Regions from separate parts of the Homo sapiens genome. Here region 2 is linked to region 1. The links come from fine-mapping of genetic effects on gene expression. Tissue or cell type: fibroblasts. Region 1 holds a variant in brackets; the other region holds the start of a gene. All regions are shown on one strand. Distances are between the middles of the regions. Region 1 has its middle 7.3 kb from the start of VN1R1. Region 2 holds the start of ZNF772 (zinc finger protein 772).

Evidence for each region. PIP is the estimated chance that this variant, and not a neighbour inherited with it, causes the effect.
Region 2: it holds the start of ZNF772, and the variant in region 1 is fine-mapped to the expression of ZNF772 in fibroblasts (GTEx, PIP 0.91).

The regions. Positions count from the first base shown.
Region 1 is chr19:57,447,125-57,452,511 of GRCh38, forward strand. No RefSeq gene overlaps it. Among named protein-coding and RNA genes, the nearest start is that of VN1R1, 7.3 kb to the right of the region's middle. The variant A/T (reference allele first, on the strand shown) is at 2,297.
Region 2 is chr19:57,475,173-57,480,559 of GRCh38, forward strand. ZNF772 (zinc finger protein 772) reads right to left here and starts at 2,394. Exons shown (of 4, transcript NM_001144068.2): 1 at 2,105-2,394; 2 at 1,462-1,500; 3 at 488-614. The coding sequence starts at 2,137. RefSeq lists enhancers at 1,595-2,118, 1,709-2,908.

The DNA.
Region 1 (5,387 bases):
AAATTTTAAAAAGCTTTTTGACTCTTTTGTAATAATAGCTTAAAACACAAACACATTATACAGCCTGTATAGAAGTACTCCTTTATATTCTATAAACTTTTTCTATTTAATTTTTTAACTTCGTAAAAAATAAGTTAAAAATGAAGACACAGACACACACATTAGTCAAGGCCTACAGAGGGTGAGGATCATTAATATCACTGTCTTTTGCCTCCACATCTTGTCCCACTAGAAGGTTTTCAGGCTCAATAACAGGGAGTTGTTATCTCCTATGATAACAATATTCTGGAATATTTTCTGAAGCCTTGCCTCACACTTTTTTTTTTTTTTTTTTTTTGAGACAGAGTCTCGCACTGTTGCCAGGCTGGAGTGCAGTGGCACAATCTCGGCTCACTGCAACCTCTGCCTCCTGGGTTCAAGTGATTCTCCTGCTTCAGCCTCCCGAGTAGCTAGGATTACAGGTGCCTGCCACCACGCTCAGCTAATTTTTTGTATTTTTAGTAGAGATGGCGTTTCACTATGTTGGCCAGGCTGGTCTCGAACTCCTGACCTCATGATTCGCCCGCCTCAGCCTCCCAGAGTGCTGGGATGACAGGCATGAGCCACCGCGCCTGGCTTTATTTTTTTTTTGAGACAGAGTCTTGCACTGTTGCCTGGGCTGGTGTGTAGTGGTGTGATCTTGGCTCACTGCAACCTCCGCCTCCCGGGTACAAGCGATTCTCCTGCCTCAGCCTCCCGAGTAGCTAGGATTACAGGTGCCCACCAGCATGCCCGGCTAATTTTTTGTATTTTTAGTAGAGATGGGGTTTCACTATGTTGGCCAGGCTGGTCTCCAACTCCTGACCTCATGATCCGCCCATCTCGGCCTCCCAAAGTGCTGGGATTACAGGCATGAGCCACAGCGCCCGGCCTGTGCTCTTTATATGACTGGCAGACCAGTAGGTTTGTTTACACCAGTGTCACCACACACACTTGAGTAATGGGATTGAGTTACAGTGGCTGTGGTGGCACTAGGTGATAGGAGTTGTTTAGCTCTGTTATAATACGGGATTACTGTTATACATGTGGTCCATGGTAGACAGAAATGTGTGGCATATGACTGTGGTATATGTATATGCCACTTTTCCTGTATTCTTTCTTCAGTGTACATTTGGGTTGCTTCCACTCTTCTGTTCTTGTTAATGCCACTATGAGCATGAATATACAAATACCTCCTGAGGCCCTGCTTTAAATTCTTCTTGGACATATACCCAGAAGTGGAAATGGTGCTTCCCGTTAATAATAATAATTATAATAATAATAATTATTATTATTATTTTGAGACGGAGTCTTGCTCTGTCACCCAGGCTGGAGTTCAGTGGCACAATCTCGGCTCACTGCAAGCTCCGCCTCCCGGGTTCACGCCATTCTCCTGCCTCAGCCTCCCAAGTAGCTGGGACTACAGGTGCCCGCCACCACGCCCGGCTAATTTTTTGTATTTTTAGTAGAGACGGGGTTTCACCGTGTTAGCCAGGATGGTCTTGATCTTCCTGACTTTGTGATCCATCCGCCTCAGCCTCCCAAAGTGCTGGGATTACAGGCGTGAGCCACCACGCCTGGCCACTTCCCGTTAATTCTATTTTAAATTGTGGGGGGAATTATTTTCCATAGCAGCTGCACCATTTTACATTCTCACCAGTGCAGGGGTTCTAGTTTTTCACATTATTGCCAACACTTTGTTTTTTAATCATGATGGGTGTAAGATGTTATTTTATTATGGTTTTTTAATTTGCATTTCAGTATTGGTGTTGAGCATCTTTTCATTTGCTTGTTGACTAATTGTATAGGTTCTTTGGAGAAATATCTGTTAAATGTCTTTGCCCATTGAAGAAAGTTTTTGTAAATTTTCAGATAACATTGTATGCTTTTGTTGTGTACAACATGATGTGAAGTATATATACTTTGTTGAGTGGTTAACATGTACGTATTATATATGTACATATTCTGTATACGTATTTTAAATATTAACCCCTTGCAGATATGTGTTTTTCAAATACTGTCTACCATTCAGTCTGCTTCCTTTTCATTCTGTTCATGTCTTTTTTTTTTTTTTTTGCACAGGAGTTTTCAAATTTCAATGGAGTCCAATATATGTTATGTTTGTTTCCTATGCTTTTGGTATTATACCCAAGAAATTATTGCTAAATCCAGTGTCATGAACCTTTTTTCATGTTATTTTCTAGGAGTTTTATAGTTTTAAGTTGTACTTTTATGTCTGATTTATTTCAGTTTGTTTTAGTAAATGGAGGAAGGTAAG[A/T]GTTCAACTTCATTCTTTTGCATATAGATATCCAGCTTTTTGAAAGTCATTTGTTGAAAAGACTCCTTAATAAGTTTTTGCGCTCTTGTCAAAAATCTGAGCATAAGTATGAGGACTTCCGTCTGGCCTCTTTATTCCACTATATGTATGCATTTGTGCTAGTACCAAGGTGTTTTGATACATAATTCTTTTAAAAGAATAATGTTTCTGTCCACTGTTGAGGCCCTTGCTAGAGGCTTGACAGTGCTACATTTGGAACAGCTGATTAAGTACACTTCCAACCACTTTCCTTAACAGGCTGTCAAACTCTGGGTCAATATATATCAGCCCCAGTCACCCCAGGAGCAGGTATCAGACATCTGGGGACAACTCCTATGCCCTGAAATGTGTAAAATTACTCAAATTGGCCAAGTATAGAAAGCCCAGAAAATCTAGCTAACCCGAATCCACTTGCCACACACAAGCTGCCTCCTACAACTCCAGTTTGCTGTATTACTATCTATATTCCTTCACAACTCCGGTGCAGCCCTGAATCATGTCCTCTGGTTCTGAGTTGTAAGTTACAACATGCTCCACCTTTCATCTATCTGTCATGTCATGTCCTGACATCAAGAAAACTTCTAAATCTTAAAACTACATACCCAGAAGGGTATCATGAGTGCAGCGAATGTTGGAAAGTCTTCAGCCATTAACCTCATTCAGCACCAGTAAACCATCTTGGAGAAAGACCTTAGGAATGCAGGCAGGCAAAGTGCTTTTGCCAGCAGATAAAATAGTAAAGCTGTGGATATTAGCTTTTGTGAGGGAGACCTCAACCAGAAATGGAATCTTACATCCAAACATCCACACAAGGGAGGTTTGTTGTAATTGTCTGCTATATGAGAAGCTTTTGTGAATTACCTTGCACTTTCTGACCTGCCTGGGATCCTTGCCAGTGTTAAGTCACTGAAAGTGTGTACTACAAAAGACTTCCATCCACTATTAGCTGATATCACAGTGTGTATCACCTTAAAATGCTTAGGGAGGGCAGATAGCTGTGCTCTCTACCTTTATCTGGAGTTATTGAGTCTGATCCCTTCGGGCGAGGCCTCATTCCCACTTCCATGGCTGGTTTGGGTGCAGACATCATCCAACTTTGGACAGAGGATACAGGCTGGCTTGAGCTGGCAGCTTGTAAAGATTTTCCTTTCTTCATGGGTATTATTGCTTGTCTTATAATGTTGGTGATAGATTTTTCACCTTCCAAGCTGCCCAAACCCAGTCAATTTCCACGTGACTATACTGGTTTTAGTGATGATAAAGTCATTGTTTAAGCTACATTTACTCATTGCAGTTTTATTCTCTGTGTGCTGTGGGTTGAGAGCAAAATTGGAGTCTGCCAAAATGAAAAAGTGAGTGGTTTTGTGAGGTTTTCAATTTTATGTACTTCCAAGGAAATAGCAAAAACAAAAAAACCAAAAAAAAAAAAAAAAAAACAACTCAATCCACAAACGCCTGATGTATATTGCTTCAGAAGGTTCCTGGGAAAAAGAAGGATTTCTATCCAAAATCCTTTACCCTGAATTTGAAGATTATTTATGGTTGCACAGTCAGCTTGCAGCCAGGACAATTGGTTTGACAACTGTCAGGATTTATGGCAGCTGTGAGAGCTGGGTATTTGTACCCATGCATGTCCCATATTCTCCAGTATTGTTTAGGGATAGCTTGCTCCTGTGATGTGCCTTATGAGCTATGTGTCTTGAACCCAAAAATGATGTAGGTTATGTTCCTGGATGTAAAATGTAAGAGTGCATTAGTTTGTTGTCCATTGCTTATAAAATAATACCTGAAACTGGGTTATTTATAAAGAAAAATCTATTTCTTACAGTTATGGAGGTTGAAAGGTCCAAGGTTGAGTGGCCGCATTTGGTAAGAGCCTTCTTGCTGGTAGACTGTGCAAAAAGTCCCAAGGTGGTACAGGGCATCACATGGTGAGGCTGCTGAGTGTGCTCACATGTTAACGTGCTAGCGCAAATCATTCTCTCTCTTTTTTTTTTTTTTTTTTGAGACGGAGTTTCGCTCTTATCGCCCAGGCTGGAGTGCAATGGCGCGATCTTGGCTCACTGCACCTCCGCTTCCTGGGTTGGCTCACCGCAACCTCTGCCTCCCGGGTTCAAGCAATTCTTCTGTCTCAGCCTCTTGAGTAGCTGGGATTACAGGCATGTGCCACCACACCCCGCTAAGTTTTTATTTTTAGTAGAGCAGGGTTTCTCCCATGTTGATCAGGCTGGTCTCGAACTCCTGACCTCAGGTGATCTGCCCGCCTTGGCCCCCCAAAGTGCTGGGATTACAGGCAAGAGCCACGGCCCCTGGCCCTTTCTCTTCTTATAAAACCACCAGTTCTCCCAGGATAACCCATTAGTCTATCAACCCATAAATTGATTAATTCATTCCTGAGGATAGAGCCCTCATGATTCAATCACCTCTTAAAGGTCGCACCTCTCAGTACTACCACACTGTAGATTAAGCTTCAATGTGACTTTTGGAGGAGATGGTCAAACCATAGCAAGCAGTTTGGGAACCATAGTCTGTACAGAAACAGTGATTGTATTAATATGAAGTATGAGACACCAGCAAACTAGAGTGGAATGGATGAGCGCCTTGTAAAGAGACATCCATGAATGTTTCAGTAACTATGGCTATGTGAGATGAGGGTATACAGAAACTCTGAGGACCTACAGACGTGTGTATCTCCTGTAGGCAAAGTCATTGTCAGAGCAAGTAATCCAAAGGTGTTATGGATTCTTGTGTCTCTGGCGTTATAAAACGTATGTTGAATTTTAATTGCCATTTTAACAGTGTGGAGAAATGGGACCTTTAAGAGGTGATTAGGTCATGATGGCTCTGCCCTTATAAAGGAATCAATGCCTTTATCATAAGAGTGGGTTTGTTAACCCGAGAGTGACGTTTTTATAAAATCAGCTGTCTCTGTCTTTCATGCTCACTTGCCCTTCTGTCATATTATGACAGAGTAACAAGGCCCTCACCAGATGCCAAGCAGATACCAGTGCCATACCCTTGGACTTCCCAGCCTCCAGAACTGTATGAAACA
Region 2 (5,387 bases), 28 kb after region 1:
TCTGGGTAACCCATATAGAAAACTAAATATTATTAAAATAATCTCAGAGTAAGGTCTTGCAGGAATAGTGCAGTGGTCCTAGCAAGTAGCGACCATAATGGTCCCTACAATTCCTGACATAGGCAGGCCACAGGAAATGTCAGCTAAAGGAAGAGCGCAGAATCCCAGGCACAGAGGTGTCATGGATACAGACAGAGGAATTCAGACAGGGAAAGGACAAGATGGATATGACCCACTGGGCTGACAATACAATGCATAACTCCTGAATCCATGCCTGCAAGGCTCTGAGACAGCAAGCGCTGGGAATGCTCAAAAGGAGAAAGTAGGAGTGCAAACAGCCCAAGCCCAGCACTCACAGAACCTACTCCAGGCACTAAGAAATGAGACAGTGTCCACGGCTCTGATGTAGGAAGGACAAAGATGCCCTGAAAAAAAGGGGAAGGGCAGGACCCAGTCCAAGTCACTGGGGTGGATGTGACGGCCTTACCCAGAGAGGCCATAAGTGCAAAGTTCTCCAGCATCACATCACGGTACAGGAGCCTCTGAGCCTCATCAAGGAGCACCCACTCCTCCTGGGAGAAGTACACGAACACGTCCTCAAAGTTCACCTGCCCCTGCCACAATCAGGAGAGCCAAGTCCATGAGCAGCATCTCTCCCAAGAACCCCCATCCGTGCCCCCACACATCTCCCTCCTGTACACCCTCCTACCTAACTCCTCAACTCAGGAAATATCAGGACCAGATGTCATTGGTGTCTTCTCTCGCCTCATGGTCCCAATGGATCACTGTGTCTACCCATAGCAACCACAGGCAGGTGAAGAAGTTGTCACCCTCTAAGCTCTGTGCTTAGCATACAGGGCCTCACCCTTCTGTAAGCAAATTCCTCTGGGGTCACTAACATCATGCTTACCAGACAACCAAAGATGGGCTTGCCTTTCTCCTTTAAGCCCAGACGTCATCAGTCTACACTTCTTTCCATATGTACATCACTCTTTGGATCACAGTTATCTCACAACTCTGGCTCTCCACCATCACTTTCCTGGCTCACTAAATGCACTACCACTGTGAAATGAATATTCTCTTTTAACTCCCAATCTACATAATCATCTTTAAGCCATTTCAGGATGATTCCCGCCCCCTTGCTCTTGGTTCCCACCAGACATGACAGAGACCTGCAATTTCTTGAAAACTCCCTTCTCAGTCTCACCTCTAAGTATTTTGCACAGGCTGGTTCCTGTGCCTGGAACAACCTTCCAACCTTATTCCAATGGTTGGCAGAAATGGAAACCCCTCCATAAAACCCCTGGCCCGGAGTCAGGACCCTGGGCTTGGGGCTTCTCCAGAGTCCTCAGACCCAAGAGATCGGAGAGTAGCAGGAGAGTGTTCTATATAACACCACAATGCTGGAGAGCGTATTGGGTGGGGGTGGGATCGGTGAGAGCATGGACATTCTCCCCTCACCTGTATAGGGTCCACAATTACTTCTGAGTTCATGGGAACCTGTGGGGAAGAGGGAGACTATGCGAGTCAAGCAATCTTGAAGGAACCCCAAAGGCTCAACCCCATCCCATATTCCTACCCAGTTACAATGTGCCTGGGAGCTGAATGTCTACCCTCTGTGCTTCCATCTTCAAGGATACCTCTTAACTGTGTTAGCTCGGAACAGTGCTCATTATCCGCCCCCATGGCCAACAAGAGTCTGCCCTCCATGAGCAGTCTATGGAATACTTTTTAAACCCTCGGATTCTGGCTCTCCTCTGTTCAGAACCTTCCATGGCTCCCATCACCCTCAGAATAGAGACCCAGCTGCTCAGGATGATATTCCAGGTGCAATCACTTATAAAGCGCTCTGATCCTTTCAGACACTAAAGGCCCAGTTTTCCCAAATGCTCCAGCTGTGAACCATCTCTGAGCCTTTGCATACACTGGTCTCTCTGCCTGGAACGTCCTTCAACTCGTGCTGTCAAAATGGGTCCCAAACACGAGCGCCCCCACTGTTCTAGATACAGGGGCCTGAGCTGCAGTAACCCGAGGAATCGTTCATTCGAAGCTTTGGGATTCAGAGATGGGGGTCAGCGCGCAGACTCGCAGACGCAGCACCCACCTGTGCCGGGCCCATCGGCTCAGCCGCCGCCATCAGGCCTGTGGACTACGGAAGGGTGGCGACAAGTGCAGGAACCTGGGATCAGCTGTCCAGGGCCCAGCCCAGCGGCTAGGTCACTCAGGCAGCGCCACTGTCAAGCCTCAGGCCCACCTCTCTTCAGGGAAGAAGACACTCTCTCACGTTTTCCCTTTTCTGTCACCTCAGGTCTGACATTGCGTTCTGGAAACTAAACCAGTGGATTAATGGAAAAGCAAACAAAATGTCCACCCGAGGATGGTAGAGGAAGTCCCGCCCTGACGTTGGTGAGGACCAACGGAAACGCCTATTTCCTGGGTTTTCATTGGCCCAGAGCCGCCAAGTTTCCTGGGTAATGTAGTTCCCACGGCACCAACACTAGTAAGCGGCGTCTCGCTTCACCTCCAGGTTAAAAGCCCAGAGAAGACCGCCAGGGGCGCGTGGAAATGGTGTCCCTCGTCTCCAAGGCCCAGACGGAGCTTAGCTTCCTCTTGAAGGAGCCATATCTGTATTTCTGGTGAACGTCGTGTTTGACATCAAAGGAATGTTTAGAGACATGATTTCAGCCTTCCTTACGCAGAGAATGCTCATCAAAAAATAAAATGGACACACCATACACTGACGTCACTCAGATTTCTATGGCTGGAAGTTAACAAATATTGTTTTCAAATGCGTGTAGCCTGATGCTCCAGAGTTAGTTTGGCGAGCCTCAGCATTTTCTGTCAGGCACAAGAAAGAAAAGACTCCAGACACCATGATGTGGAACGTGGAGTGGGGATGTTTGGTGGCCTTGAAGTAAGTGAATAACCCTTCTGTCTGTTACCTCAGAAAATATTTATCCTGCTTATACAGCAGTGATTGTGTCAAACCCAACAAGTAATACTCTTGTTCAAGATAGTATTTCATACTCCATATACAGAGATGTATTCAATATTTTAAGTGTTTTACAAGTGTCTGAAAAGACAGAATTCATCAAATGTCATATGGCAATGAAAAGGGCAACATGAACACTTTCTGTAAAGAAGAAATAACCACCAAACTAGATGTCTATACACAACAAAATGTCTTTTATGGAAGTGTGATATAAAACTATTTGAAACCAAAAATGATAAATGTAATGGAAATACATTTACACAAAAAATAATGTTTAAAATAATACTCAAGGCCAAAGAAAGTTGATCTCAGGTGAAAAGTCTGCAATGAGAGAAGAAATGAAGATGAAAAGAAGTGCATCTTTTGATTAAAATAACAGCATATTACAGTGTAAAACATAAGTAGATATACTTATTGAGTTAGAATGATGGAATTCCCGTGCGTAACCTCAACTACATATAAATTGAAAGGAGGCTAGTTGCTCAAAGTTTTAAATTTTTTATATTTCCAAGTGGAAAGCAAATGTATTACAATCCTGTATGGCACGCTAATGTGTTAAACGTTTGTAATTTTTAGCCTAAATATAATAAATACAGTCAGCGTATATACTTTTCAAACTAGAAGAGGAAATGTTTGGAATATAAATAAATAATCAATAGAAAGGTAAAATAATAGTAAAATAAGTGGAAGAAGTGAGGCAAAGAAAAGCACAATGTAGGATATATTTAAACTGTCAACCTAAATAACAGAGATTCTTCAAAGATGTTGAGTTCATTCAGGAATGCACAGGGGATTTGCAAATCCAGGACATGCAGGCTATAGGGACTATAGGCATATCCAGAGAGCTTGAAACAAGGAGAAGCTTTCAAAGGCAAAAGGGAAAAGTATATATAATTTGTTTTGAGATAAAAAGAACATTGGTCACAGATGTTTATGGCAGAGGTTAACACCAGTTCATTAGTGGAGACAATCTGTCAGGCAAGTGTTCTACTACATCTAGAGCTGTCCTTGTAACTCCTGTAGCAAGCTGCGGTTTGAGAAGTTCTTGTCAAAACTTCTTTTAACGGGAATATGTGCATTAAGAGCCCTCAGAGACAGTAATAGCTCTTATCTTAAGCATGTGTGTTTGAGTGCCCTCTTTTCTCAGCCTCCTGGCTTTATTTATTTATTTACTTATTTATTTATTTTACACAAGTTACTCATTTTGGTTTTGACAACTTTTGCAAAACCTAAATGACTATGCAATAAATACTCAAATAAGCAGTTAGTAATTTTTGATGGACCAAAACACGCTTCACGAGGTATTCTCTTTTCTTCAGTGAATTTCCACAGAATTTGAATTGTGATTGAAAGCACAACTAACATTCCCAGACTCCCTACTCTGTCAGTAAGAAAAGAATCATGTTGTAGTTAGAAACGTCCAAAATCTGCTTTAGAGAAACCAAGACCTACGCTTGAAGGTTACCAGGCCCTTGACTCACCCAACTGGGCTGAGATGTCATCAGGGAACTGCATATCATCAGCATCTTCTGGTTATTCATACAGGGGTGGGATAAGGATGACAATAATTTACATTTAATAATGTCCATATCCTAGACATTCTATCAGACCTTTTATAAACACTACGCACTTTTGCCCTGTAAAGTGGATTTGTCACCTAAATTAATATGAGGAAACTGAGGTTTCTTGGGTCTATAATTTATTTTCAGCTGTAGCTGTTAAGTGGCATAGTTGGCAATGGAGTCCAAGGAGCCATGACTAACTACTTCCCAGCATGGCCTCCTACCCTAGGTCATCTATCTGGGTAGGTTCAGAGCCCTTTCTATGTTAGACAAACAAGGCTATGAAAAATTCAATGTCCCAGGCAGCTGACATGAGGACAAGAATGTGTCTTGCCTTTTCTTCACCACAGAAACATGAACCTTCAGCTTCATTTATTCCCTAAACGTGGGTTCCTTGGATGCCAATCAAGAATCAAAACAGGAAAAGTCCTGCTGGCCCACAAATACAGAGGGTTTGATAGGTGAAATGTTATTGCCTGAGCCTCACCGTATCATCCCAACCACCCACATATCCTGTTACCTCTGCCTCCTAATATGTCTCAGGTCATCTTCTTCTCAACACCTCCAATTTCATGCCCTTGGGCCAATCTGCCAACATTCCTGAGCTACACAATGCCTTCTGCCTTGTATCCTACATCAGTTTTTTCTCTACTTTAGTTCATTCTCCACATATCATGCAGAAGATGACTTCAACACAAATCAGGTTCTATTTGGGAGAATCAGAAGCATGTTGGTGGCTAGAGGGGGAAGGGCTTCCCTCCAAACTTTAGTGTTATAACATGGTTTAGGGTTATAACCTGTCCTGCATTTTCAGTGGTCCCACCAGTAATTTC